Regions from separate parts of the Homo sapiens genome. Here regions 1 and 3 are each linked to region 2. The links come from fine-mapping of genetic effects on gene expression. A gene starts in region 2. Each other region holds a variant in brackets. All regions are shown on one strand. Distances are between the middles of the regions.

Region 1 (10,515 bases), 60 kb before region 2:
GGCCCAGGGTGTCCTGGTGGGAGGCAAGGTGAGGCCTTTGTGGCAGCCTCTTTGGCCATGTGAGGACGGCCTGGTCTAGCAAGCGGGTATAGGTCCTGCAGGGGAGACCAACGCTAAGCACCACAGGAAAGGAGCCCTATTCCCAGCCTTCCTGGTACGGGCCCAGTGACTGCCCCTTCAAATCTGTCACATTCCCATAGAAGCCTTTGTAGACTCAGGTACATGAGGTAACTCAAGCAACCAGGCCCAACGTGAGCTGGAAGCTTCAGGACCCCTGTGAGGGCTGGAGAAGAGAGCCAGGAGTCCTCCCCTTCCCCTGCACTCCAAATGAGGAGCAGGTAAAGGGCACTGAAAAGAACATGGGCTTTCAGATCAGAGGACACTTAGTTCCTTGGTTCAAATCCCAAGCCAGCACATCCTTGGAAGATGGCCTTGGCCTCAGTTTCATCTTCTATAAAATCAGGACAGTGATACTTCATAGTGTTGTGAAACTAGATATGCTAATATATGTAAATATATGGAAAGTAGTTGTTCCACACTTCCTCTTCCCCAGCTCCATGTGAGCACATGGAAGGACTTTGGCCAGAGCGACACACCTGTCCTTTCACTCCTCCTCCCCTCACTCCTCCTCACTCTGGGTGGTGAGTTACACAGAAGGAGCAGAGCATGTTAGATTCAGCCCCATCTGGTTTCTTTATTTTGGATCTGACCCCCCACAGGAAGAGTGCTCTTTCTTCAATACCACCTGTATTTTCCATTCATTTTTTCCTCTCATTCTTTCAGTGTGGACATGCCATGTGCTGAGCTCCTGCCCTAATGAGAAAGCCTACGGTGTCTGGCCAGTTCTTCTCGTGAATGGTTGGAGAATGGATGTCTCTGATGTAGGAGTCTAGTACTAGGAAGCTGTATACCCAGGCTACATCCACCAATCCATTATTAATCAAGCTGATCTTTCGACCTAGCCCCATATGACCCCTGTGTCTGTCAGGTGGTTCTGAACTCAGGGGAGGAAGAGTGATATTTGGTGGCTTTCTGATACATAGAAAGTACTCATTAGTACCAGCTACATATGCATCCCCAGAGGCAGGGTCCTTCCACTAAATCTTCTGGTGACTCTCAGTCCACCTGAAGGGACACTTATCCCCCTATATAAAGTAACCCCAAATGAGCAAGAATTGGTCAGCAAGCCATAGTCTTCCATTTCAGTTGTATGATGGACCTTGGGAAAAACAAGAGTTTTATTTCTAACTTGCCTCTGTCCCAGAATCTTGACACCACTCTGCTCTTTGTCAATGTGTGATCTTAAATGAGCCACCACATCCTCTGCTTAGAGCTCCCATCCTCAACCCACATATTTATTTGACTTCCTCCAAGAAAACTTCAGATACCATGGTCTGGAAGACACAGGTTGCTTCTCTTTCCTCTCCACTACCCCAGGTAGTTCTAATCACAGGGCCCTGATTCCCAACCCAAACAAGGCCAATCAGAGGCTCCCTTCCAGGGATTTAAATATTGAGCAGAGATACCCTGGTGGTACCCTAAGAGGTTTAAAAGTTTCTACCACTAAGATTTCTGGGGCTCCCCTGCTTTGTGTCCTTCCTGCTGCCTATGTTTAGTTTGATTTTGCAAACTCCCCAGTATCATTCTGTTGTAGTTCAAGTTCCCCAGGAAACAGATTGAGCTGGTGATTTGTGTGCAGAAAGATTACTGGAAAGTGCTCTCAGCAACAACACCTGTGAGGGAGGAAAGGAAGCAGGATTGAGCAGAGACTAGGACCTGAAATGAAACTGTGCACTGCACATAGGCCTCAGCCAATTCCTGGGGAGCTGGAGCTAGGATGGCCCTTCAGAGGTGTCCTGCCTTGAAGCAACGAAGGCTTTGCACCTCCAAAATGACCAGGTATTGGGTATAGGCTGCCATCAAGAAGGGGCTGTAACCTTGGGCAAGGTGGCCCTCCTTAGCCAAGGACAATTGCAGGGGAGGCCTCAGCTCAGAGCTACCTGCCGCCAACATCCTGGGAGCTGGAGGAGAGCATACCTCAGTCCTAATGAGGAATTGGGAGGCATGCCACAGCATCTAGTCCTCCTTCCAATAGCTCGCTTTTTTCTTACTTTAGTCTTTGCTTGAAGCAAAGAACCATAACTGATATACAAAGCAATCTTAGACTATAGACTCCAATTTACCTCCTGCTCTTAGAGACCCTCTTCAACATCTAAATCAAGGTTTATCTGTCCACCTCAAATTACCCCCCATTCAAAAACCAGAACAAGAACAAGAACTCACATCAACAGGAATGCTGTGCGAGCTGTTAAGCAGTGTGGGGTTCTGCTTGGCAATCAGTCTATGACTGTCAGCTCTTCATTTCCAGTAATGATGTACAGAAGGATGTTAGATGGGACTTCTCCTTTGGTCTAGAATTTTCCACAAAGCAAGGACAATAAATGACAAGTATCACCATATTCTAAAGAGAGGTAATGAACATGTTGTTTTAGACTGGGTCCCCAAAAAAGCAGTGCCTGGGACAAGGAATTGCATGCAGAAAGTATATTTTGGGAAATGATCCCCAAAAAACAGGAGTGGGGACTGGGAAGACGGAAACAGAAGGAAGGCCAATTTGAGGGTGAATTATCCACCTGGTTCCCACCATGGGCACAGAAGTTTGCTGCTACTAGCCTAACAATCCTCTCAGGAATGATGGAGAATACACCTCGGAATTGTCTGCCAAAGGGTTGGAAGACAAGATAATTTATCCACTGGCTTCTAATCCACACTGGCCAAGCATTCATTACCCCTTGAGGTGTTAACTACAACACACTTCCAGGTTTGTACATGCACCAGAATGACTGAGAAGGTCCTTGCAAGGGTCTCACTCAGATGTGACATTCCAGGGCTGAAAATCATGCAGGTGAGGAGAACTGCTGTCTGGCTTCACCTGTATGCAGCCAGTCTGCTGTACCCAATGGCTGGAGGGAAAAAAGTGGTCTGAAAGGATGTAGGTACAGGACAAGGGGTGTCCAACATGCACATCCACGCAGGATTTACCAACAGAGAGCCAGAATGGCTCTTTAGTCGCCGCCACCATCCTTCTCCAGGTTGTATTAGAAAAAAAGAGATTAAGCAGACTCTTTGAAGAAAGAGGACTTATAAGTGTAAGGGTGCTGTGACATTTTCCTTCCCCTCCCCACGATTCCCTGCCATCACTCCAAGCCAAGTAAAGGCTGCTTCAGAGTATGGAAGTGTTTGCCAAAAGAGGAATCTACCTCCTGGCAGAATCAGACACCCTGGTGCTACTGTTAGCTCTGGGAGGAGAGGAACAGCAGTTCCTGGGAGAATGTGACACGTGACTTCCAGCACTTGGGGAAGTAGCAGAACTCTGACAGTTGTGGACTGTCTGGAGCAGCCCTCAAGAGTAGCATGGGAGCAGGTGACACTTCCAGTCTGGCGTGCAGCCAATTACCTATTTAGTCGAGTAGTCACCTCAAGTGGAACTATTAATAGACTCAAGTCATCCTGAAAGGACTTGGTCAAGAAGGCTGCCACTGGGCTAGGGAACTTCAGGAGTGTGCTTCTGCAGGGCAGGATCTGAGCGGAGACTGTCAGAAGTAAGCTAGAGAATGGTACAATACACACAGTGCCAGCAGAGGTTCTCCATAAAAACCACAAAGGAAATCTAAGAAAATCCACTGGGCATTTGACACACAGAAGGCACTGATGGCCAGGTTATACTAGCACTGATTCGAGGTGGCTTTGCCTTTCTCCTTGACTGTCAGAACCTTCAAAGCCATTAGACAGGTTGTGGAGCAAGGAAAATGAAATTCTACACCAAGACTACGTCTGAGCTGGGAGAGGAGGGGGACATAGAAGAAAGAAACAAGCATAAAACTGGATAAGAAAATGAAATTTTGATTTAAGATTGGGCTGAACTTTTTGATCCCTGAAAATGGAACTTCTTTTTATATCTGAAATGTGACAAAAAAATGAAAAGATTTTCCCTAGATATGTTCCTGGGCAGGAAAGGCAGATCCAATTGATCTGAAAAAGAATAAGTTGATTGTACCTTCCAGGACTGGGAGTCATCCTTGAAACCAGATGTAGGCTGTGGTCCTCACCAGATGTTAGCACTTGGAGGACAAGAAGGCATATGAGACCAGAGAACATACCTGGGACCAGCTGCACACCTGCAGAAAGCCACTGGCTTGAGGACTATACTTCCTCCACCCTATGTAGCCATTTTTTTTTTTTTTGAGATGGGGTCTCACTCTGATGCCCAGGCTGGAGTGCAGTGATACAATCTTGGTTCACTGTAGCCTCAACCTCCTGGGCTCAAGTGATCCTCCCACCTCAGCATCCTGAGTAGCTGGGACTATAGGCACGTGCCATCATGCCCAACTAATTTTTTTAATTTGTAGAGACAAGATCTATGTTGCCCAGGCTGCCTGTGTAGCTTTGGTGTCAGAAGTCATCTCTGCCAGACAAAATCTGCTGCACCTGTAGACAACTGGATATGATTCTCATGGCTGGCAAGAGAGTATTCCAATTTAAGCTGAGCTGCCCCATGTCTGTCTGTGATATTTGCCTATTCTCACATTAAATTTACCTCTGGATAGCAGATTTTAGATCCCCTATAGAAGTGTTCCTCTAATTTTAACATGCAGAAGGCACCCTGGGGTGTTTATGTAAAATGCAAATTTCCAACCCCCATCCCCAGAGATTCTGATTTAAGAGGTAGTCTGTAGAAAACAGTTTGAAAAATAGTGCTCTAGAAAACAGTGCTGTCCAATAGGACTTTCTGTGATGACAGAAATAGAGCACTATTCAATATGGTAGGCACTAGCCAAATGAGCCTATGTAGCAGTTAAGATGTGGCTACCATCTTAACTGCTTACCAAGGAAGTAAGTTTTAAATTTTATTTAATTTTAATCAATTTAAGTTTAAATTGTCCCATGTGACTAGGGCTTCCACATTGGACAGTGCACCCTAGAATCTTGTTACTCAAAGTGGGCAGCAAACAACAAGCAGCAGCAGCAGCACCCAGGATTTGTCAGAAATGCAGAATTTCAGGCCCCACCCTAGACACCTCAGACCTACTGAATCACTATCTGCATTGTATCAAGATCCCCAGGTGATCCACGTGCCAATAAAGGTGAATACTCACTTTCTAGAATATTTTGGTGGTTCACTGACTCTTCCATTCCCGAATCATCCACTATCTGTTAACACACTTTCCTTGTTATAGACTAATTATCATATTCAATTGTTTAAATCTAGTTCTTACCCCACATTGTTGGTACCTAGCATTATTGGTCTGAAGGGTATAAAGTGTGTGTGTGTGTGTGTGTGTGTGTGTGTGTGTGTGTGTGTGTGTGTTTGCGTGTGCGTGCGCGCACATGGAGGAGGGTGGGGAGAAATGGGGATGGGGGGAGAGAGAGAGAGAGATAACGCAAGGTTATAACCAGGCTGGAAAGGGCCCTATCTGCAAGCTAAGGGTTTGGACTTTATTCCTTGGGCAATAGAGAACCATCAAAAGCTGTTAAGCAGGTAGGTGGCTTGGGCAGAGTTATGTTTTATGAAGATAATCATGGAAGT[ATGGAGGATGGCC/A]TGGAGGATGGCCTGGAGTATGGAGGATGGCCACACAGATAACTAATCTCTACCGTCCTCTGGTTCTTACATTAAGTATACCTACAGGGAGTAGGACTTGCTATCTTATCTTACCCCTAGATTTGAGGAACAGCAAGTACTTAGGACTTATAGCAGTGTATCCATTCTACATGGTCAACATCTACAGTATCCCAACCCAGATCTTCAGAATAATATAGTATTCTTTATCTCTAAGCTTGGGAGGAAATAACAAACACTTTTGTATTTCAATCCTGAAGAGATTATTTCTCGGTGATAAACCAAATGTTTGCCATTTATAGTAGTGAACTCTTTGGGATCTGACTCATCATTGAAACAACAATTTGCTTTGAAAGTGTACTTTTCAAACATACTGTTTTAAGACTAAAAGGATAAATAAGACATTCACGGGACACATAATAATCAAAGCAATAAAATACTACAGGTTTTCCTTCAGATATCTTTTTCATTGGCAATGATATGGTCTGTTATCATAAGCCTCAATATTAAAATGAAAAACAGACCAGGCAGGGTGGTTCACGCCTGTAATCCCAGCACTTTGGGAGGCTGAGGCAGGCAGATCACCCGAGGTCAGGAGCTCAAGACCAGCCTGACCAACATGAAGAAACCCCATCTCTACTAAAAATACAAAATTAGCCTGGCATGGTGATGCATGCCTGTAATCCCAGCTACTCAGGAGGCTGAGGCAGGAGAATCACTTGAACCCAGGAGGCGGAGGTTGTAGTGAGCTGAGATCACACCATTGCACTCCAGCCTGGGCAACAAGAGCGAAACTCTGTCTCAAAAATAAATAAATAAAATAAAATAAAAAAACAGTTGCAACTGGTGATGGGAAGAGGCAGAAAATGGGAAGGGGAAGAGTAGGGGACTTAAAAAGTATTTCTAGTTTTTAATCTAGTCTTGGAAATCCTTCGATATACTCAGAGATAGATCCTGGCAGCCAGGGGAAGTCTGAAAGGGAAAGACCCAAAAGAAAGGGGTCTGTTGTTTCCTAGGTGACAGGGGTCTTAAAGGCACTCTGTTCTTAAAAGAATAACTTAAAGAAGTTATTCCACCCAAATACTGTGGGCAAAATAACAGCCCCAACCAGAGCATTCAGACAGAAGACAAAGAGGCTTGTATTGGGACACAGGGGGACCAGAAAGATGAAGAAATCCTGGGGAGGCCAGTACCAGCAAGAGGCTACACACACAGATACAGTCACCACACACAACAAAGGAGGGACTGATGGAGTTCATGACCCTGTAGCTCAAGCAGAGCTGCTAAGTGCAGTGACCAGTGAACCTAACCCACTGGGGTTTGGGAAGAAGACATTAGAACCTCTATTAATATTTACTTTTCATCTTTAAAAGACAAGAAATTGCATTTTGCTAAAAGTTAAAATTTAGATTGACATCAGCCCCTCCCTCCACTTGCAAATCAGAAGGTCCTATGTCAGGTACAGTACACAAGCTGTGGTGGGAGGTGGCAGGGGTGTAGGAGTTAGATAACGTGGGAGGGGTGTTTAGTTGATTTCAGCATATTGAGATGTACTGCAGTTCCTAGGTATGTGCCCAGACACAAGGGCTTACCTATTAGGTAGTTTTTACTAAACCGAGCCACTGGACAAGTAGCTTAAAAAGATTCTTGGTGGCTCACGCCTGTAATCCCAGCACTTTGGGAGGCCGAGGTGGGCAGATTATGAGGTCAGGAGATCAAGACCATCCTGGCTAACACGGTGAAACCCCATCTCTATTAAAAAAAAAAATACAAAAAAAATTAGCTGGGTGTGGTGGCACACACCTGTAGTCCCAGCTACTTGGGAGGCTGAGACAGGAGAATTGCGTAACCCGGGAAGCGGAGCTTGCAGCGAGCCGAGACCACACCACCGCACTCCAGCCCGGGAAACAGAGCGAGACTCCATCTCAAAAACAAAAACAAAAACAAAAAGATTCTTGCAAAGAAACAGCAGACCAAGGATAATTGTAATACAGGTTGAACATCCCAAATCGAAAAGCCAAAATCTGAAATGCTCCAAAATCCGAAACTTTTTGAGTGCCAACATAAGGCCCAAAGGAAATGTCCATGGGAGCATTTCAGATTTCAGACTTTCAGTTAAGGATGCTTACCTAGTAAGTATACAATGCAAATATTCCAAAATCTAAAAAAATCCAAAATCCAAAACACTTCTGGTCCCAAGATTTCAGAGAGGAGATATTCAGCCTGTAATGCAAGCAAAAATGACAACACTAGTTGATACTTCTGTTCCTGGTGCAAGCTGTTCATGAGCCAGGAAAAAACATTAAGTTTTACCAATAAGTCAGCCAAAAAATTTGAAACTATCACAAAGATTTTTTAAAGTAGGTATCTGTGTTCGCCATGGTTAATGATGAATCTCACTCTTCAGATACACACAATGAAAAGTGTGAAGCCATCACAATTAGCAGAAGCTACAGATCCGGAAGATAAGACGAACCTCCACCATGTGTTCAGCAATACTTAACATCATAAGATACTAACTCCAATACTTGTTAAGCAATGCTCACTAAATATAGTCATAAATGTTTATAAACCTTTCAAAAGTTTTCTCACTTAATAGCAAAAGACAAAAAGTAACATACCATTTAAAAATTACTTCTTCTTCATACCATGGAAATGTGGATGAAATACTGGTGAAACAATTTAGGGGGAAAAAGACCCTGACGCATCTTTTTGTCAGGAAGTACTATTGGATGACAAGTAGAAAACACTGCTGACAATCTGAAGAAATAAGTACAGGAAGAAATTTTTCAGGGCGTGAGGCTGAGTAGAAGGAGAGATGTTTCCAACATGTCTCCTCTTACGGTACCACTGCAGGAAGAAAGACATTAAGGTAGCGATGAAGTGGTGAGGATATATTTCTCAAAATTAATCTACCTTAAAAAAAAAAAACAAGTTTATTTTATGAGCAAACTAAGTCTAATCCCTGATGGAATGGCTACTTTGACTGAAATGTTTTTTTTAAAGGTGAGATGGGGCTGGGCACAGCAGCTCAGGCTTGTAATCCCAGCACTATGGAAGGCCGAGGTGGGCAGATCACTTGAGGCCAGGAGCTCAAGACTAGCCTGAGAAACATGGCAAAACCCCATCTCCACTAAAAATGCAAAAATTAGCTGGGTGTGGTGGCACACTCCTGTAATCCCAGCTACTTGGGTGGCTGAGGCAGGAGAATCGCTTGAACCCAGGAGGTGGAGGTTGCAGGGAGTCAAGATCACACGACTGCACTCCAGCCTGGGCAACAGACAGAGGCTCTGTCTCTAAATATATATATATATTTTATATATATATATATATATATAATATATTATATATAATATATATATATAATATATATAATATATTATATATATATATTTTATATTATATATTATATATATATATAAATATGAGATGGTAGATTCCACATTAAGAATTGAGCAACAGCATTACTAAATAATTCACAGGCAAGACTTTCATGTGCTAACAGTATCACTGATGTGAATTTTATAAAATTAAGAACTTCAACATGTAGTAGAATATTTACAACTCTTTGGGATGCAATAGGAGGTACCCATGAACAATACTTTGATTCACTTAAATTTCTCTGATCATCTCAAGGTAAAATACTTTTAAAAGAGCTACAAACTGGCCAGGCATGGTGGCTCACATCTATAATCCCAGCACTCTGGGAGGCCGAGGCGGGCAGATCACGAGGTCAGGAGTTCAAGACCAGCCTGGCCAACATAGTGAAACCCCGTCTCTACTAAAAGTACAAAAATTAGCTGGGCATGGTGGCGGGCACCTGTAGTCCCAGCTACTTGGGAGGCTGAGGCAGGAGAATCGCTTGAACCTGGGAGGCGAAGGCTGCAGTGAGCCGAGATCACGCCACTGCACTCCAGCTGGGGTTGGGGGGGTTGGACACAGAAAGATTCTTGTCTCAAAAAAAACAAGCTGTAAACTCAAATATGAGTTTTATGTGTATTTTTCGCACAAAGAGCAAGTATGCCACATTTCTGACCTTTCTGAGATTGTAAATGGCCACTAGTAAACTTCAAAGAAATAAATACATCTCATTTGAATTTTCAGAGTGAAAGTTATAGTTCATCACTGAGACACAAAGGAACTACTTTCAGAGACTTGTAGTATGAAGAGTGCATATAAAAATGGCTATTTGGAAATATTTTCATCATTATATGACTATGTTGCCAAAAACTATTAATAGTGTGACACCTACAAACACTTTCACATCTACACAACTGAAAAATTTGTAAGCAGAATTTTTCTAACTTGATTTAAAATCTTTGAAAGAATTTCAGTAAGCTTCGAACCTACTTGTTTTTTATGTTTTTGTTGTTGTTGTTGTTGTTGTTGTTGTTAGAGACGGGGTCTTGCTCTGTCACCCAGGCTGGACTTCAGTGCCGCAATCATAGCTCACTGTAACCTCGAACTCCAGCCCCTACTTTTTAACAAAGTAAATGTGTAGCACCTTCTGATTAACATGCAAAAATGACAGATTCACATCAAGAAAATGGATATTTACCAGCCAGATTTAAATTAAAAAAAAATTATCTTTGCAAAATTGGTAAATAGGATTGAAAATTTTAGTAGGTATAGTTTTCCTTCCATCTGAATCTGCTTCTCTAGAAGGTATCCTTTTCAGCTCTAACAGCCCTTAAGACCAAATATTGAAATAAACTGAAATTAGAACCAGAATTTTGAATCATTCAAAAGGTGTTAAAATAAGGTTTTCAAAAATAGTAAATGTCCAAAAGATTTCATTTAAAAAATATTGCTTTTTTAAAAAGTCCATTATAAATTATATATAACATATTCTACTTCAACATCATCTCATGCTGCTCTTGATCATATTGCTCTTTTTA
Region 2 (9,638 bases):
AAGAAGATATACTTGGCTCACACCTGTAAACCCAGCACTTAGGGAGGTGGAGGCGGGTAGATCATCTGAGGTCAGGAGTTCGAGGCCAGCCTGACCAACATGGTAAAACCCCATCTCTACTAAATATACAACAATTAGCCAGGCGTGGTGGCACATGCCTGTAGTCCCAGCTACTTGAGAGGCTGAGGCAGAAGGATCACTTGAACCCAGGAGGCAGAGGATGAGCCAAGATCATGCCATTGCACTCAAGCCTGGGCAACAAGAATGAAACTCCATCTCAAAAAAAAAAAAAAAAAAAAAAGAGAAAGAAAAAGAAAAACACGAGTCTCCATATTGAATGGGGGCCATGGGTGCTGAGCAGAACAAGGAAAATAATTTTAAATTTGAAATTCAAACTATCAATCAAGTATGAAGGTAAAACATTTCCTAATGTATATTTAAAAGTTTACCACCCCCAAAGATACTTTCTCAAAAAAAATTATCTGAAAATATACTCTAATAAGATGAAGGGAAAAGAATCCAAGAAAGACAAAGATATTAGACTCAAAAAGCAGCCCTAACTCAGAAGTGGAGTAAGGAGGAACCCCAGGGCAATGGCAGTGCAATGGGCCAGAGGCAACCAGACCAGAAGAAGCAAGGGGCTGGAGTGTTTTCAAAAAGAGAGTGGATTTATTTTAACAGACGATGAAAAAGAATCTATTGATAAGATAAACACATATTCTTGATTTGTCAAAAAAGGAAAAATAAAGGCAATCAGAAGCTCCTGGAAAAATACAGAAATTAGAAATATGCTCCAAATGGGAACAAAGTAAAAAAGAGAATGATTTTGAGCAATTATGGGGGAAAAGAGAAAAGCTTTGGTACTGACACTTGAAACATTACCTTCCTAGCTACACATATCTAGTGACATAAAGTTATGTCTTTTCTTACATATTCAATCATACAACTTGATTCTACAATGAATACCATCTACAGAACAAAAATACGGCTGGGCGTGGTGGCTCACACCTGTAATCCCGGCACTTTGGGAAGCCAAGGTGGGTGGATCATGAGGTCAAGAGGTCGAGACCATCCTGGCCAACGTGGTGAAACCCCATCTCTACTAAAAATACAAAAACTAGCTGGGCATAGTGGCGCGCACCTGTAGTCCCAGCTACTCGGGAGGCTGAGCCAGGAGAATCGCTTGAACCCGGGAGGCGGAGGTTGCAGTGAGCCGAGATTGGGCCACTGCACTCCAGCCTGGCAACAGAGCGAGACTCCATCTAAAAAAAAATTAAAAAAATAAATACAAGGTATGTATTCAGTGCTTTACATATTTTTGTAAATACTGTTTACTGTAAATACAATTTACTGAAATCTCAAGTTTGGAAATCGGTCACAAATACTGCTCAGTAGACTCATTATAGTTACAGAACAAAGTTTAAATATTACAAAACCTGGCCAGGCGTGGTGGCTCATGCCTGTAATCCCAGCACTTTGGCAGGCCGAGGCAGGTGGATCATGAGGTCAGGAGTTCAACATCAGCCGGGCCAAGATGATGAAACCCTGTCTCTACAAAAAATACAAAAATTAGTCAGGCGTGGCGGCAGGCGCCTGTAATCCCAGCTACTTGGGAGGCTGAGGCACAGAACTCCTTGAACCCGGGAGGCGAAGGTTGCAGTGAGCCAAGATTGCGCCACTGCACTCCAGCCTGGGCAACAAAGCGATACTTTGTCTCAAAAAATGAAAAACTGGCTAGGCGCGGTGGCTCACGCCTGTAATCCCAGTACTTTGGGAGGCCGAGGCAGGCGGATCACGAGGTCAGGAGATCGAGACCATCCTGGCTAACACGGTGAAACCCCATCTCTACTAAAAATACAAAAAATTAGTCGGGCGTGGTGGCGGGCGCCTGTAGTCCCAGCTACTTGTGAAGCTGAGACAGGAGAATGGCATGAACCCGGGAAGCAGAGCTTGCAGTAAGCCGAGATCACGCCACTGCATAACAGCCTGGGCAACAGAGCGAGACTCCCTCTCAAAAAAAAAAAAAAAAGGAAAAAGAAAAAGAAAAATTACAAAACTTGACAACATAAATATAACAATATAAATGTCAGAAACTGACAGAGGGAGTAGAAAACACAGTGAGTAAAGGGGCACTAATTTCCTCATCTTAGGGAATCAAGATATGACATAAACCTGAATTTCTTTACCATTTAAATTACTTCTCTGATAAATTTCTAAGTTATAAAAAGGTACAGTGCCAATAAGAATAAATACGCTTTTCTAAATGAAAGACATCATTTAACACCTTTATTGAGCATTCACTATGGCAAAACACTACACAGTACACTGATGTTTCCAGTGATGATCCATTGGTTAGTCATGAAATCAATAGTGGGCTACAATTTTTAAATGAAATAGAATAGAAAATATTAAAGTTCGAGCCAGGCACAGTGGCTCACGCCTGTAATCCCAGCACTTTGGGAGGCAGAGGCGGGAAGATCACGAGGTCGAGTTCGAGACCACCCTGGCCAACATGGTGAAACCCCGTCTCTACTAAAAATAGAAAAATTAGCTGAGCATGGCGGCACGTGCCTGTAATCCCAGCTACTTGGGAGGCTGAGGCAGGAGAATCGCTTGAACGTGGGAGGCAGAGGTTGCAGTGAGCCGAGATCATGCCACCGCACTCCAGCCTGGGCGACAGAGCAAGACTCTGTCTTGAAAAAAAAAGAAAATATTAAATTTCATTGTATGTGCTTAAGAGCTGTAAAATGTTCCTTGTATGTGTATATTTGTTTGTACAGAGTAAAATGTATTTATTACTGAGGGTCATGGGTCTGCTTTTTAATTTTTCTCTCTCCTCCTTTAATGCCAGCTCTCAGTCGTCATTCTATTGCTGTCAGTGACTCTGTATCTATGTAAACTATTTCCATCTATAGTTTATGAATTCTAATCTTCTACGGAGAAAGACAACGTAGAAGATTAGAAACTGAATTCATCTTTATTTTCCCCATGCCCCTCCAAAATTTGTTCCAATTCCTACCTTCTTTATGCCTAAGGCTAAACACCATTATACCAAGCTCTAAATTTTGGAATCACTGGTGACTCTCCTCCCCTTCCAGTATTCTCTAACCTCTTCCAATCAGTTGCCAAGTCCTGCTGTTTCTCACTTAACAGTCTCCCATTTGCCTCCTTTCCCCTCATCTTCACTGCCCATGCTCTGGTTTGCATATTTTTCATCTTTCACTTGAATTGGCACAACAGCCCCTTACTGGTCTCCATATTTTTTTTCTTTCTTCCTTCCTCAACCCATTATCCAAATGCTGCCATTATACTCTTCCTAAAGGACATAACAAACAATAGGTAAAGCTCTGAATACATCCCTTTACACACTTCTTTAACTCTCACAATCGACCTACAAGAGTGATATTATCCATTTTATAGACAAGGAACCAAAGGTTCTGAGAGATTATGAGACCTGTCCAAGGATATACAGTTAAAAAACAATGGCGCCAGATTCAGCCCAGATCTGTGCAGTTCCAAAGCCCATGCTAAACTGTATCCTGTCATCTCTTGCCTAAATATCCCTACTCACACTCCCCTATCCCATCTTTCCCTTCACCTGAAAGAATTCATCTTGTTCTCCGAAATTCATCTCAAACATTTTCCAATAGAAAGCTTTCCAATTTCCCCTCCCCAAGGCTATGTTTCCACAACATTGGTGTTTACCTTTATCATATATCTGGCTTCAATGCAATTCTTTATTCATGTCTGTTTCCTCTTCTAGGCTCTCTGCTCCTTTAGAGCAACAATCATATCTTTTTCATCTCCACAACCCAGTATATAGCCAAGTGTGCACTACATAGGTGTTCAACATATGTGAATGAATTAGCTAAATTTTAAACAACTAGATAGTAAGGACAAGAGTCTATATCCTTTACATCTACTAAAACACCCAGCAATGCTTCCTCATAATAGCTAAAATAATTCTGTTTGAACGAACGAATTAACATCTGTATAGATTCCCTCATACACACCTACATAGATGAAGAGAGGGGTGAAATGAGCATATATGCTTTACTGCTTTAACCCATAGGCACCTTGAATTTGAGTAAATAACGGATAATAGAATAGTGAAGGGTAATTAAGAAAGCCTGATGGTATAACTAATTCCAAGGAACATCAAGTTTCCAAATATCTGGTGTCTCTGAAGCATGATGCTGGGAAGACAGATCATCAGTTTGACTTACAACAGAATTACAAATACGTACTTATTCAGGGGACATTAAATTTTTCTTCCTCTGGTGTCTAACAAAAATGAGTCCCCAAAAACTCTTTAGAACATGCCTTCACAACAGGATATGACTGCCATTTTATTGATAAGAAAACTGACATTACATAGACTAAAAATACATAGCAGTGCAGTTGGTGAAAGTAATGAAACAGAGGTCTGCTAACCAACAAACACGGACCCTCACTTATTCCTCTCATTTCTCTCTTCTGTTTCCTACGTTCTTGGGAAGCCTGGATATGATAGCCAAGTCTTCCTTTCGTTCACTCAAGAAAAAGCATTTAATGTTGACCAACTCTGAGACAGGAAAAGCCTAGGCCCTGGAGCTACTGAGACACAGCCTTAGCCCTCCATATGCTTAGTGAAGTCCAGTCAACCTCTGAGTTCTGCCCTTTGGCATCTCCACACCTTTTTTGGTGTTCCCTCGTCTAAAGCACCTGCATCTTTCTCTGGCCATTTTACTAATATAACCGGAGTCTTACTCGTAGCTCATTAACTTTAGGCCTCACTGAGGGAACCTGGGCACTCAGGTGTTCACCCATCTCCTCTACCACAACTTTCTGTTCTCACCGTGCTCTCACCACAGCACCGTCATCCCCACGGAGGGTTTTCGAGCACCAAAAGAGCCACCCATGCAAACAAACTCCCCTCCCAGAGATAAATCTGTCAACCCCTGCCGTCCTCTCGCTCTTTAGCCCCACAACTTTCACTACCGGGCCCTCTCCCCGCCATAGTGCCAAGAGCGTCCAGACCACGACTAGGGGGCGTGCGCGCGCCGGGAGGGGAAACGTGCGCGCGCCGGGGGGTGGGGGGGCGCCTAGCCCAGCGCCAGCACGGACCATGCACAGATCAGCAATCGCTGGCCGCCAGGCCTTCGGAGGGTCTGTCCGCCGCGGCTTCCGCTACGGGCGGCCTCGCACCTTCTGGCTCAGTACGCGGGACTGGCGTAGCCGCTCCTCGGCACTCATCGCCCGCAGACGCTGCTTCAGCTCTCCCCGCAGGCTCCGCTTGGCGCTGCTCACCGCTGCCGCCGCCATCTCACGCCCAAGCCGAGTCCAGTCCCGCCCTCGGCGCCCTGGGCGCCCTCGGGTTCGGTCTCCGCCCCTGGCCGCTCCCAGGTGGATCCGCGGCCTAGGGGCGGGTCGGGGCTCGGGGAAGCGCCCCCACCCCGCTTCCGGGACGCGGGCCCGCGGCGCGCCGCGCGCTTACCTCGCCTCTGGCCCTTGGGACCCAGCCCTCGTGCGGTCCCCGTGGTCCGGCTCGCCCTCCCCGGTTAGGGGAGCGGTGGCGAGGCGCCGTCGCTGCCCTGCCGCCTGACCTCCCTGAGCCTGGGCCCTCACCGGGACCGCGGAGGCGGCAGCGCCACTGGCGGGGATGGTAAAGATGGCCGGCAGTACCCACGGTGCCTGGCATCTCTTGTACTGTTCAGTAGTGGGACTTCAGGGGCCAGAAAAGAAGGGCAAGGCAGGACATGTAGCGAAATCGTCACGAGTCGCTTAACTACAGGGATAGGTCTGACAGATGCCCCGATTTCCTTCTTGTGCAAACATCAGAGTGTAGTTACACAAAGTTACTACACACCTATGCTACACACCTGTACAGCGTATTTTGTACCGAATACTGTAGGCAATTGTAAGCACCGTGATACTTGTGTATCTAAACACAGAAAAGGTAATGTGTTGGTTGGCTACCACATCAGTAGGTATTAGGAATTTTTCAGCTCCATTATAATCTTAAGGGACCACAGTGGTTGATGGAAATGTCCTTATGTGATGAATGTATAGATGATACATAATCGGGAACACTGCTAAAGCAATAACTGTAGTGTAAAAGCCAAATTTTGCGGGTTTCTAGTGTGAATGTATTCCAGGTAATAGTGCCCACATAGGTACTTCCTGTTATAACCATCAGTGACTGTTCATTCCCACCACTCAGCTCTGATTAAAACACAAAAATGAATTAAAACTAAAAGCAGTTGGGGGGTGGGTGAGGCACTTGCAGGAAGAGGTAAAAGAAACTGTTAAGTCTTAAACTGCTCCCAGTAGACAGGCGCCTCAGATGGCATAGACGGTTGCCTCTCAGATGTGACTTCCTAAGAAAACCAGAGCTGTCTCTGCCAAAAATACGTCCCTACTGACCGCCCCAGTGTCTTAATCCCCACCGTTAAGAATCACACCTCCTAGGTAAAGCATTAATTAAGTGCCCGGTGAGAATGCACATGGCTTGAGAGGGGAGTTCTGGCTTCTTTATGGAATCTATCAACAGCTTCCAGGGAAAGCTAATGCAAGTCCCAGGGGGACTGTGTTGTAAGAAAAAGGGAAGGCCAGGCAGGTACAGCGTATACATAGTGCAATTAGATTTGCTGACCTAAAAGTTAGAACACGAGGTCTAACAAACTACGTACTTTTCTAATCTGTTCATTTTTACCAAAAAATAAAAATTAAAATTAACACTAGCTCCACGTTGAATCATTTACCAATTTTCTTTGTTCAGAATATCCCAGAGTATCCTGCATATCAGGTTGCCATATCCATCAACCCCAAATGGCAAGCCAGAGAGAGAAGGCTGGGGAGGAGGCATCAATGGAAACTCTTAAGCAGCCAGGGGCACTGGAAACTGCAGAAAGCATGGGAAGGAAGGAGGGAAGAGGGAAGCCGACCTGAGTCTGCTTCTAGCCTGAGTCCGCTTCTCAGTCTAGTCTGCAGTCTAGCCTAGTGACACAGAAAAGGACTTTTGGGGTAATGGCACACCTTAAAAGTCTGCCTGGGGCAGAAAAGACACCGCCTTCCTGGTCATCATCCCATAATTAATTGCCTGGATCCTGTGTTGAGCTTTTACCCTTTGGCTGAATTTCCAGCCAGACTCCAAAACTGAAGACAAAAATGGCATATAGAGAAAAATACATACAATTTATTCATTAAATAGGGACAAAATTTCTGTAACTCTGGAAGGTCAAGTTACATCATCAAAGTTGTTTATTTAAAAGTAGAAGTATGTGTTGGCAATCGTTTTCGTAAGAGTCAGAAAAATTAGGCCGGTTTCACAATATGGAGTGTCCTTTCTGGTCAACAGTATTGCTTCAGGACAGAAGAGCATTTCACAGATCTTTCCTGTAACTTCTAGAAAAGTCATCCAGCCAGATTTAGGCTCAAGCTTCTTTACAAAGCCATTTTCCTATGAGAGAATAAATTTAACATTTTAAAAATCATTGGAGATTAAGTATGCTGGAATAAAAAGCAAAAATATTTTCATTTAAATAATGCAAATAATCTTCTATCCCTCTAAAGGAGCATTGTGTAACAGAAACACAGTGTGGCCTACATCTGTAATTTTAATTTTTGGTAGCCACATTTTAAAAAGTACAAAAATAGGAAAAATTAATTTTTAAGATATATTTAGTGATAATGATTTCTGTATGTAATCAATGTCAAATCACTAATGAGATAGTTTTTTTCATAACAAACCTTCAAAATCTCATGAGTATTTAGTACTTACAGCGTATCTTAATTCAGACTAGCCACATTTTACTACCATAGTGAACAGCAAGCACAGCTCTAGAGGATAAAAAGTCTTTTTGTTCTTGTTCTTGTTTAATTGTCCAACATTGATTTCAATGCACTTATATTTGTAATATGAATTCTATTATACTGTAAACTGCATTGTATTGAAACTCATGAGAACTCACAGTAAATCCAAATTAAACCAATACCTTTGAAGCTATGAAAAGGTTGATGGTTTCTTTTATAATCTACTCTCTTTGTGATCGGACATAGTTTTAAAAATGTAGGATAACCCAATTAACTGGACATTTTATTTAATTTACAATCTATAATCATAGAATCCTCACTGAAAAGTCCCTCTGAGATCATCTAGCCTAATGCTCTCTCTTAACAAATGAGGAAAGTGAGGCCCACAAAAAAAATCAGTTATCTAAGATTAGCCAAACCCTTGGTGCCTGGACCTGGATTAGAATGCAAATACCCTACTTCTTTCCACTCCATACATTTCCAAACAAGTGCCAAAATATTCGAAAATTGTTAAAATAATTTTTTCGAATGTTCATCTAGCAAACATTTGTGGCTGCATCTTACAGGTTCCAGAACCTGGGGTTACAAATGCCTGCAAGTAGCTCAGAGCAAAGTGTAACTAATATTGAAACGTAAACCAAGCATAACCCTTTGATAGTTGGGAGAGATTCGAGAGCTCTGCGGTGCCTTGGAATCATTTTATGAACATCACTGGCAAAGCAGATGAATACCACCAGCCAGGGGGATTTCATTTGAAAGACTTAGAAAGCCATTTTCTGCCTACGTAAGTGTGCGTCGTGCTCTGAGACATGCTGTCATGCCTTGACAGAGGAAGGAAACTGCCCCTCTTCTTCCTCTTTCCCTTCTGCCAGTACATACTCATAGATTACACTCTAGGGAGGTATCCACTTCATTACGCCCCTTCCTAAACACCATATTTCGCAAGTATGATGAGACCCTCTGAAATGACTTTTATTATAACGATAATCATTGTCTATTATCATTGATCAGTTAACATGTCATATACATCAACGTCTAAAGAAAGGACAGTGAACAAAGAAAATATTGATAAATTCAGCCAGATGAAGATTAAAAATTTTTTTAACTATGAAAAACTAAAAAGAACAATAAACTAGGAAAATATTTACATATACCATGAAAGTGTTCATTCAAATGTGAGAGAAAATTCTCAGGCCCTTAATAGTTTAAAAAGGAGAGACCATTAAACAGAGAAATATAAATCATTCACAAGTATATGAGAAAAACATTAATAGCAGTTAAAGAAATGTACATTTTAACAAAGTCTTATTTTTTTTAGACCTATTAAAGTGGCTTTATTTGATGCCTATTAAACCCTCAAAATTATTAATAGTACCACCCACACTGATAAGGTTGCTATGATATTGTTCTATTGATATAATACTTTCGAAAAGAAAATATGTTTTCCAGTATGCTAGAATATCGTAATTATACACACATCTTATGAACCAGTTACTCCACTGTTAGAAATTTATCATGAGGCAGTCTTCTAAAATATTGGAAGGTAGGGGGCACCAGAAAAGCATACCTATGCTTCACTACTGAACCATTATATCTAAAAGGGGAAAACCAGGCTGGGCGAAGTGGCTCAGAACTATAAACCCAGCACTTTGGGAGGCTGAGGTGGGGAGATCACTTGAGGTCAGGAGTTCGAGACCAGCCTGGCCAATGTGGTGAAACTCTGTCTCTACTAAAAATTCAAAAATTAGCTGGGTGTGGTGGTACATGCCTGTAATCCCAGCTACTGAGGAGGCTGAGGCAGGAGAATTGCTTGAACCTGGGAGGTGAAGGTTGCAGTGAGCCAA
Region 3 (10,515 bases), 31 kb before region 2:
TTAATAAACTTTACTAATAACATTTTAAAACATCTGTATCCTCGCCCTCAAAATACAAAAAGTTAAGAAAAAGGTTTAAAAATGAATACAAATTGGCCAGGCGTGGTGGCTCACGCCTGTAATCCTAGCACTTTGGGAGGCCGAGGTGGGCAAATCACGAGGTCAGGAGATGGAGACCATCCTGGCTAACATGGTGAAACCCTGCCTCTACCAAAAATACAAAAAATTAGCCGGGTGTGGTGTCGGGTGCCTGTTGTCTCAGCTACTCGGGAGGCTGAGGCAGGAGAATGGCGTGAACCCAGGAGGCAGAGCTTGCAGTGAACAGAGATCGCACCACTGCACTCCAGCCTGGGCAACAGAGCGAGACTCCATCTCAAAAAAAAAAAAATGGATACAAATTATTTGCAGCATACATGACAGACTAATGGTTAATCTTTTAATATATAAAGAATTGTTACCAACCTGGAAAAAAATAAATGAATACCAAGAGAAAGATAAATTCCCGGAAAGAAATGGGGCAAAGAACAGCACTTTACAAAAGATGAATTAGAAAGGTTAAAAAACATTTTAGAAAGCTTAGTATATATTTTGAAATTTTCATAAGTAGTGTATTTTAACCATTATAACTTTTCAAAGAAGCAAGGAGAAATTAAAATTTAAGGATTTTTTTTTTGATTAGTACTTCAAAACAAAACCAGAAATACTGATAAGACAAAATTAAGTTACTTCCAAGGTTGAAAATTCACACAGATGCCCACAATGAATTTCTTCTGAGAATAACTTTTTCAATATATTAATGAGGTTTCCGGTTACAGTGTACTTTCTTGAGAGACTTATTAAAAGGGGTATGTTTCCTTCTGATACAACCTCATGGCAAACCACTATTCAAAGTTAAAGACTTAATTACAACTTCCCTTCTGAAGCCTTCTCATGCACTTTAGGCAAAGAGAAATCTCCATCTTGTGTTCCCAGAGCACTCTGGGCACATCCCAATGGGATCCTTAGCACCAGGACTGAAATCACTAGTTCATGTGGAATAGTCATCGTCGTCATCATCATCATCAAGCACTTATATGCACTGGCATTGTACTAAAAGCTTTATGTAAATTTCCTATTTAATCTTCAAAACAATCTAGTGAAGCAGATATTATTACCCTCATTTTCAAATGATCAGAGGCTTAGGTGAAGGGGTTTACTCATGTCCACTCAGCTAGTATGCAGCAGTCAGTAACTAGACTCAACTCCACCTAAGACCAAAACCTTGATCCTAACCACTCCTTATCCATCGTCCCCCTCCATACACCTGTCTTCCCCAACAAAATGTGAACTCCTATGGCCAGACACCACTGCCCCTTATTTATCTTTTTGTTTCCAGGGCATCACATGGAGGCTACCACACAACTGGTAGTCATTAATGCACGTTCATTTGTTATTTCGGCCATTCACTCACTCAGGGAGAGGTCAACATACTCTCATGTGTTGGTGATGAGTACGTAAAGTGGCATAACCTTTTTTAGTAAGCAATACAGAAACACCTATAAAAATTTAGAATTCATAGCCATTTCATGGATAGATGTTGATCCCATGGACTTACTTGCATAACTATGCAGAAAAATATCTATCAGGATGTTCTTTTTTATTTTTATTTGTAATACCTAAAAAACAGAAGCAACCCAAATAGCTATCAACAGAAGACTGGTTAAATAACTTAGAGCACATCAATGCTATGTAACCACTTAAAACACTATGCTAAATCTATATGTGTTGCTATGAAAAGAGTTCTATGGTTTATCAACAAGTGAAAAAGTAGGATGCAAAACAAAATGTGAACTCCGATCCTATCTGTATAAATTTTTTAAAAGGATACAAATATATATATCTAGAAGGATACACAAGTATGTTAACAGTGGTCACATCTGGGGAACAGGCTGGGAAGAAGAGGGGTGGGACTTTTTCTTTCATACCCTTCTAAACCATTTAAATTATTTACCATGTGATTAGTTAGATGGCATGTAATTACTTTTATGAATGAATGAATTGTTGCTCTACTGTTTGGCTTTTTTTTTTCCTTTTTGTTGTTTCTAACACCAACATAGACTAAGATGAAGTACAGTTAACTTGGGTTGGCCAAGACGGCTAACTGAATCAATCCTCTCATATCCCTGTTTTTCATTCAAAGACTATGTCCTTATCTCAAATATTTGGCAGCTTGCACATAAATATGCCTCCTTCCCACCCCCAAAAAACTAACTAACACACCCTATAAGTAACATCAACCTTTCCCTCAAATTTTATTTGTTAAACCTTCAAAGGGTACATGAGAGAGGCAAGTCTTACCTGGGGTCAGCCAATTAAATCTGCTTTTTATCTACGGTTTATCACTAACTGAACATACAGCTCAAAGTACAAAGTTAATTACTACTTTTGCAAGGAGAAACTGAAAATGCTGATGGGTGAGCAGCAGGACAATTCTTGTATTTCTAATGTCTTACTCTCATTGATCATATCAGCCCTCACAGAAGACTATCTTGCCTAAAGTTACCATTCCTCATTCCAGCATCCCTTTATCATTTTATCCTGTCCTTTCTACAGCAAAAAGAGGTATTAAAAAAACTATCTTTACCTGCAGTCTCTTAATTCTAGCAAATTAATATCCATTTCTATATATATGAAGATTCTGCTGTTTTCTCCTTTTAGCTAACCCCTTCCAAATTTATATTTATAGTTTCTCTCTACTTTTATAAATTATACTAGGCTACAAAATAGTTTCAAAAACATTTCACCTAGAAAACCTCATCTAGAAAGGCAAATTGATCTTGGTCCATCTACATTTGCCATGGCCTCATCACCTAGCCACTAAGATCCCTGTTTGTAATATCAGGGCACACCCCAAGACCATACTCTGGCAAGTCCTGAATCAATATCTCCTATGTCCTGACCTCCAGAGCTATATATCCAACTAGCCATCTACCAGCATTTCTGGGAGGTCCTGGAGCCACCTCAAACGGGATTCACTATGTGTCCCCCAACCCCCTACATCTCCTCTCTCTTCTGCATTCTTTGCCTAGGTTAAGAGCATGACATGCAGATGGCAAAGCCAGACTGTCCCTCAACAGCCTCAAGTGGCCTGGAGACTCTACATGCTGCATATGTCAGAACTTGTTCTATCCTCTCCATTTCTAAAAGTGGTCATCATTTCTCATCCATTCGAATCCATCAGATTCCCAAGGGATGGTCCACTCCCAGTTTCTTTGGCTGTCCCTTGGGACAGCCTGTCCTCCTTATTTCTGGCAGAACAACCTTTCCCAAACATAGAACTAGTCATGTTACTCCTATGATTAAAGTCTTTCAATAACTAACTCCCAGCACCTACAAAATAAAGTTCAAATCCCAGATGTGTGACATACAATACCCTTCACAACGTGGGCCTCCAGCCTCAGCTCAGGCCATGACACCAACTGAAATCACAACCTGCCTTGAGCTGAATGCAGCAGAGGCTGCTGGTTGCCCATCTGGACATCATTCTCTCTTTCTCCTTAGTAGCAGAAAACTTTACTCAGGAGGCCATGAATCCCACCGCAACACCACATTTCTCACCTTCCCTGGTAGTTATGTATGACCTTGTGCCTAAGTTCTGACAAATGGGACTTTCAAGGTGAAGGATGCTCTTTTTCTCCCAACACCCTCTCTTTCCTCCTGCTGACTACAATTCAGAGTTGATAGCCGAAGCTTGAGATACCAGGCAGGACCATATGGCATATGCGGCAGGATCTGTCCCTAATGACTGTGGGGCCTGTACAACAGCCACAGACTATAAATACAACTCCCAGACTTCTTTTCCAAGCATCTCACTGATATTTTGAAGTTTTCACTGATACTTTGGAGTTTTCTGCTACATGCAGCCGAATCTGATTCTAACTGATAACCTGAGCATGCCCTCCTTTTACTCGCCTCCACAGCACATGACGGCAGTAAGGAAAGGCACCGTGTGCCATCCCACAAACAGCATGCCTTCGGGGAAAGCAGACCTGGCAGGAAGACCTGGCTCTGCCTTTTGACTGTGGCATGCCCATAAATAATGCTCTGAGACTTACTTTCTGCAACTGTGAAAATGAGATAATAACATAGTCATGATGAGTAATAAGCTTACATATGTAAGAGCACTTAGCATAAGGCTTAGCACTTAGTAGACAAAGGGTAGCTACTAATAATTTACCCATGTCACTGTCTCTGTACAAAAAGTCCTTGGGGCCAGGTACGGTGGCTCACACCTGTAATCCCAGCACTCTGGGAGGCTGAGGTGGGCGAAATACCAGAGGTCAGGAATTTGAGACCAGCCTGGCCAACATGGTGAAACCCCATATCTACTAAAAATACAAAAATTAGCCAAGTGTGGTGGTACGCGCCCATAGTCCCAGCTACTCAGGAGGCTGAGGCAGGAGAATCGCTTGAACCCGGGAGGTGGAGGGTGCATTAAGCCTAGATTGCGCCACTGCACTCCAGCTTGGGCAACAAAGTGAGACTCCATCTCAACAAAAAAAAAAAAAAAAAAAAAAAAAAAAAAAAAGTCCTTGAGAGTAAATGTCCAGAAACTGAGCTTTCATAGACCTGTACACGCTTTCTGGTGCTTACTTCAATATAGTGTAAGAAACTTGACTCATAAGCAGGGTCCAGGCTTATGACAAGTTAGTACCCCCTTGCTTGGCACAGTGTCACACACAGTAGGACTCTCAGAATATTTGTTACACAAGTGAGTGAACAAATACAACACTTTAGAAAGGAAAAGAAAAAGGCAGAGTGGACATAATTGATCACTGGGCTCAGCTCCTGATTTTCATTTGCCTAATTCTGATTTCTTTTTGGCCTTAGGCAGATGGAATAGAGAATATTTTTATGGCTGGCATTTGCAGTTTTTTAAACAACAAAAACTGTTTTTTAAAAAGTCAAAAAGAAAAACACCCCAAAAAAATAAACGTTCACTCCAGGCAAACTTCCAAATATTGTGATGTGTTTTCTCTTTGTTTCAGGGGAGAGGTTCACAATGAAACAAAATATTACAGCAACCTTTTGCAGATTCAAAAGGTTAAATTCAAAATGTTATCAATAATGTAACTCCCACTGTTTTTACAAAGAAAACCTTGATCCATAAAGATACACAATTTCTATTACAAGAAAACGAAGTGGAAATGTACCTGAACTTGTAAAACTGTCATTATTTAAATATAAGTCTTAAAATTCAAGATAAAGACCTTAGCACAAATATTTGACTTTCTACTTTCATTTCCAGTGAAATGAACAAAGGAAAACAAACTTGGGAAAAATGTCTATTATGATTAGAAACCAGGAAAGAATGCCATATCTAAGTCGGAAACTTCGAGGTATTTCTGCAAGATATAATTTAGGAAAAAGGGAATTTGATAATGAAATACATGTTAAAGAAATGGCTGCCTTGGGAAGAGCCGGAAGGAAACCAGTGTGGAACTGCAGTCAAGCCCCCAGCCAGGAGGAGCAGGTATACGTATCGTAACGATGGGTCTCTGGGCAGCAAGTTGCTAAAAAGCAAATCTTGACCCTTCTTGGGCCTCAGACACCTAGTGCAAAGCTGATTTAACGAGGAAGACCACCTCAGCCCTCATCCCTGCTTACCCTCAGCAGTGTGCTAGGCAAAATGTGGGTATGGCCATGA[A/C]TCCTAACAAAGGCTCCATGTTTGGATCTTCTGCCCCTGCAAATACTGGGCTATGCTGACAAAAACCAACCATGGAGAAAATAAATCCTTCATACAGTGGCAAAGCTCCCTCCGGCAGGTGCCTACAATAATCGCTTATTCCCTTCTCCCCTCAGTTTACTGCATCTTTCTCAAGCAAAACAAAATGTAGCAAATTTAAACTATTCCCTTCTTTCTTCATCTGGGCCTGAACACCAACCACACAATCTCTAACAGAGCCCATCAGAACTACCAATAGCAGGCAAACCTAAACCTCTTTAAGGTGAGGGAAGAGAGAAAACAGTCACTGCAGTTTGAAATTTTATAAGTTTTTTTTTTTTTTTAAGGAGGAGGAACAGGAGCAGCTTTTTGTTTTTTTTTGGTCTCTGTGACAGCGATGGTGGCATTCGAGAGGCTAATGGCTAAGAACAAATCCAGCAGCAGGAATATGTCCAGTTCTCATGAATAAAAGGATCTGTGTTTTTTCCCTCAGAGGACCTGATCATGGGTCCAGAAGATAACTATTTGAGTTCAACGGTTTCCTTCTTTCCTAAGTTTTCCCCTTGATTTTCTCTTATGTCTTCCAAATATTTACCTGTACATTATTTGGTGAAAACAGTTACCTGATGGAAGAGTTTGAATCTATACTTCCCAGAAGTAACCCAAAGGCATTTGAAAACAGCAGTGAGAAAGAGTGTCCTGGATAAAGCATAATGAAAAACATCTTGTTGAGAGTTAGGATCTGGGCACAACCCCCAAATAAAAAGGGAGCTGATGTGGATGCTTCTACAATACAGTAGGATGACAGCCAAGCAGACAGTAGGTGTGCAGGATCTCTTCAGCAGGCGAGACCCTGGGACTGCCTCCTATTCAGTGCACGTGCATACACAGAACACGAGGGCAAACACACGACCTTCCAAAACATTTTTTTCTTAAGAACTGCTAGTGATTGGCCAGGCACGGTGGCTCACACCTGTAATCCCAGCACTTTGGGAGGCCAAGGTGGGTGGATCACCTGAGGTCAGGAGTTCCAGACCAGACCGACCAACATGAAGAAACCCCACCTCTACCAAAAACACAAAAAAGTTAGCTGGGCATGGTGGTGGCAGGCACCTGTAGTCCCAGTTAGTTGGGAGGCTGAGACAGGAGAATCGCTTGAATCCGGGAGGCAGAGGCTGCAGTGAGCTGAGATCGTGCCATTGCACTCCAGCCTGGGCATGCCACTGCACTCCAGCCTGGACAGCAGAGTGAGACTCTGTCTCAAAAAGAAAAGAAAAAAAAAAAGTACTCTTTTAGTGCCAAAAAAGCAAATCTGCAAAACCACATACACCAACAATTTATCTTACTTCCCATTTTCCCCCATTCTCCAGCCTCCCCTAACTCACCACTCCTATGAACTATAGTTTCTACAGGATAAAAATAGCCTAATACATCTTTTAAACATTCCTATCCAAACTGGTTCAGGTATATTGTCAGAGCTATCATCACTATCTTTCTCAACTCAATGGGAACTTGAAAGTTAGCAAATTATATAAATGAAGAACAATTCTTGGTTGATTATCACCATCAATTAACTGTTGAGGTGATTTTAGAAAGCCAAACTCTCAGTGGAGTAAAATCAATATGCTCTTTCTAAGGAAATAAGATTACGTAGCAAAAAAAAAAAAAAGGGGGGGACATTGAAGTTTTCTTTAGGCCTCTGTATGTATATTACCATATGTCACATATGACAAATTTATCTCATTTTCACTCATTACTAAGTAGATATTTTTCTGTAATCCAGCTAAATCTTTATTCTCTTGTAGCTTGTTATAACTATCAAATTCTGAAATATTTCCAAACATTTTTAAACGTAGATAAATGAAAAAATAGAAAAAAATGTAATGATGGTCATAAAAAAAAAAAACCAACAGAAGTTTTCCAAACACATTTCTTAACAATGCCTTAGTCACCAGTAAATTACTAGAGCTAGTATATGTGGGACATAAATTTCTAATTAATGTACTAAGATAATGTTTTAGAGAAAGTTTCTATCAGGAATCTAAAAATGACAATTTTCTAAATATAAAGATGAAGAATCAGCACTAAAAATCTAAAGTTCTTTTTTAAATCTTCAACTTGGAAGAGTATCTCCAGTCAATACAGAGACCTACAATCTACTGGGATCATAGAAGAATGCACACTGTAGCTTTGAGTGGAGTGTGTGTGTGAGAGAGAGAGAGCACGAGCGAGAGAATGAGAGAGATCACACACGTGAGAGTGAGCCCAGCAATCCAACGTTGGTATAGACCATGCTAGCATTTTTTATTTTTTATTTTGAGCGAGGTCTGAATTTTCTCTAAATATTTTGCAGTCTGTAGCACAGTGCTAGGAGACAGTAAAAGTAACAGCCAAGGTGTTGCATGCAAAATCAAGTATCTAGCTTGTTTTAAGCAGACTAAACTTAAGTAGGAATTTCCAATGAATAAAGCAGATTAGGGAGAAGCACAAAATATGTAATAGCTTTTATTTTATATCACCTTTTTCTTTCCAATTTCAATGTAGCATTCAATATACAATAGTGAATTTTCTGCAACTTCGAATATAATTTCATGATGTTGAGAATGAGTCATTATTGAAAGAGCTCTGTATCAGGTTTCTGTGTGGAGCAGATTATTTCCTCATAGAAGATAATCTTCTTAGATTCAAAGAGAAATATAGCACGTACTATGAAGGGTTTGGGGAAAGGAGAGGTATTTCTTGGTGTGATGGTTAATTTTATGCATCAACTTAATTGGGCCAACAGGTGCCCAGACCAAATATTATTTCTATGTGTGTCTATGAGAGTGTTTTAGGATGAGATTAACAATTGAATGAGTGGACTCAGTAAAGTGGACAGCCCATCTCAATGCAGGTGGCCTGAATAGAATAAAAGGCAGAAGAAGGAATTTGTCCCTTCTTTCTTGCCTAACTGCATGAGCTAGGCCATCTCATCACATTTCCTGCACAAGGACTAGAATTTACACCATAGGCTCCCCTGGTTCTCAGTCCTTCGGACTTTGAGTAAACACCACTACCTTTCCTGGGTCTCTAGCTTACAGACAGCAGACTTTGAGACTTCTAGGCCTCCACAATCACATGAGCAAATTCATTATAATAAAGCTCCTAAAAGTATAGATATAGATGTAAATATAGATGTACACGCACACACACAAACATAAAACTTATTGGTTCTGAGAACTCTGACTATACACTAGGTGCATTTTTTTTTAATGTAAACCTTTTCATGAAAAATGAAAAAACGGTGAGTGTTGGTAGCTTATTTGATAATACATACAGTACTTTGGGGTACTGTGACTACATCAGGTCATAAGGAATAAAAGTAAGTATGTATTTATGCCACCAGCATTTAATAAAATATACAAAAGGAACGAAAGCAGACTCTTGGCAAATGAAGTATTTTTAGTCATTGTACTTACTTAAAGAGAAAACAACTCCACAAGTATCCTTACTTTGTTGTGGTATTTAATTACTATTTTAAAAGTTAAATTCTATATCTCTCACAATAAAGATGGGGAGAAGGACCAGTCTGAAGAATCAGTGCAAATATTTCCCATTAAAATAGACATATTTCAGGACAAAGCTTTTAACAATGATATTTGAGAATATGCTGCATCTATAATATAAAATTAGAAAACACAGTCATACAAAAGAATAATCTGAGATTTGTAACAATTGCTTAGAGGTTTTTGTTTTATTTTTTTGAGACACAGTCTTGCTCTGTTGCCCAGGTGGGAGTGCAAGCATAGCTCTCTGCAACCTAGACCTCCTGGGCTCAGGCAATCCTCTCACCTCAGCCTCCCAAGCAGCTAAGACTACAGTTGTATGCCAACACAGCCAGCTAATTTTAAATATTTTGTAGAGATGGGGTCTCATTACGTTTCCCAGGCTAGTCTTAAATTCCTGGGCTCAAATGATCCTCCCACCTCGGCCTCCAAAAGTGCTGGGATAACAGGCATGAGCCACCATGCCTGGCTCACTTAACAGATTTTTTTAAAAGATTAATAATTTTAAAATGTTAATGATGGCAAAGGAATAACAGGATAGACAGAAGAAGAACCCAAATCAATAAAATAGACAAGATAGGGAACTTCGGTTATAAACCCAAATGATTTTGAAAGTGATGGGGATAAAAAGATGAGAGAAATATATTACAGATCCAGAAGAACCAAAGTAACTATAATAATAATTTCAAAAACAGAGGAAAGAAGGGATTATCAAAAAAGATAGTTGAAAATAGTTCCCTGGAGTTAAAAAGGACATGAAACTTTAGGATGAAAGAGATGACTAAATACCAATTAATTCACAAAATTAATGAATATTAAATTTGGAAATCAAAAATAACAAAAATTCCTAAAAGAAGTCAAGCAATGAAAAAACAAGTTTCTTACAAAGGAAAACATGAATGACATCAGACCTCACCTACAATACTAATCACCACAAGACAACAGACTAGTTGTCTAGAACACAGGTCACAAACTATAGCCCTAAGACTAAATCTGGTCTGTTGCCTGTTTTTGTAAATAGAGTTGTATTGGAACACTGTCTGTTTTGGTACCGTCTATGGTTTCTTTCATATTGCAGTGGCACAATCGAGCTGCTGTCAAAGATTCCATGGCCTGAAAAGCCTAAAATATTTACTATCTAGCACTTGACAGAAAATAATTGCCAAATCCTGGGCTAGAATTCTGGGTGGACAAAAGAAACAAAAACAAAAAACTGTGACCCTAGAATTCTATCCTATTCAAGAATTCACTGATGTGTACAAAGAC

What was found.
Region 1: its variant is fine-mapped to the expression of MTHFS in whole blood (TOPMed, PIP above 0.99).
Region 3: its variant is fine-mapped to the expression of MTHFS in B cells (CEDAR, PIP 0.95).

Annotation. Positions count from the first base shown.
Region 1 is chr15:79,831,243-79,841,757 of GRCh38, forward strand. LOC124903536 (a long non-coding RNA gene) reads right to left here and starts at 8,678. Exons shown (of 2, transcript XR_007064730.1): 1 at 2,284-8,678; 2 at 1-1,733. The variant ATGGAGGATGGCC/A (reference allele first, on the strand shown) is at 5,588.
Region 2 is chr15:79,891,685-79,901,322 of GRCh38, forward strand. It overlaps MTHFS (methenyltetrahydrofolate synthetase), which reads right to left and starts at 5,330. Exons shown (of 3, transcript NM_006441.4): 1 at 5,188-5,330. The coding sequence starts at 5,304. The region is part of intron 2 of ST20-MTHFS (ST20-MTHFS readthrough); the gene reads right to left. ST20 (suppressor of tumorigenicity 20) reads right to left here. Exons shown (of 3, transcript NR_037653.2): 3 at 7,158-7,441. RefSeq lists a silencer at 5,339-5,638 and an enhancer at 5,779-5,828.
Region 3 is chr15:79,860,014-79,870,528 of GRCh38, forward strand. All of the region lies in intron 3 of ST20-MTHFS (ST20-MTHFS readthrough), which reads right to left. The region is part of intron 2 of MTHFS (methenyltetrahydrofolate synthetase); the gene reads right to left. Among named protein-coding and RNA genes, the nearest start is that of MTHFS, 32 kb to the right of the region's middle. The variant A/C (reference allele first, on the strand shown) is at 5,687.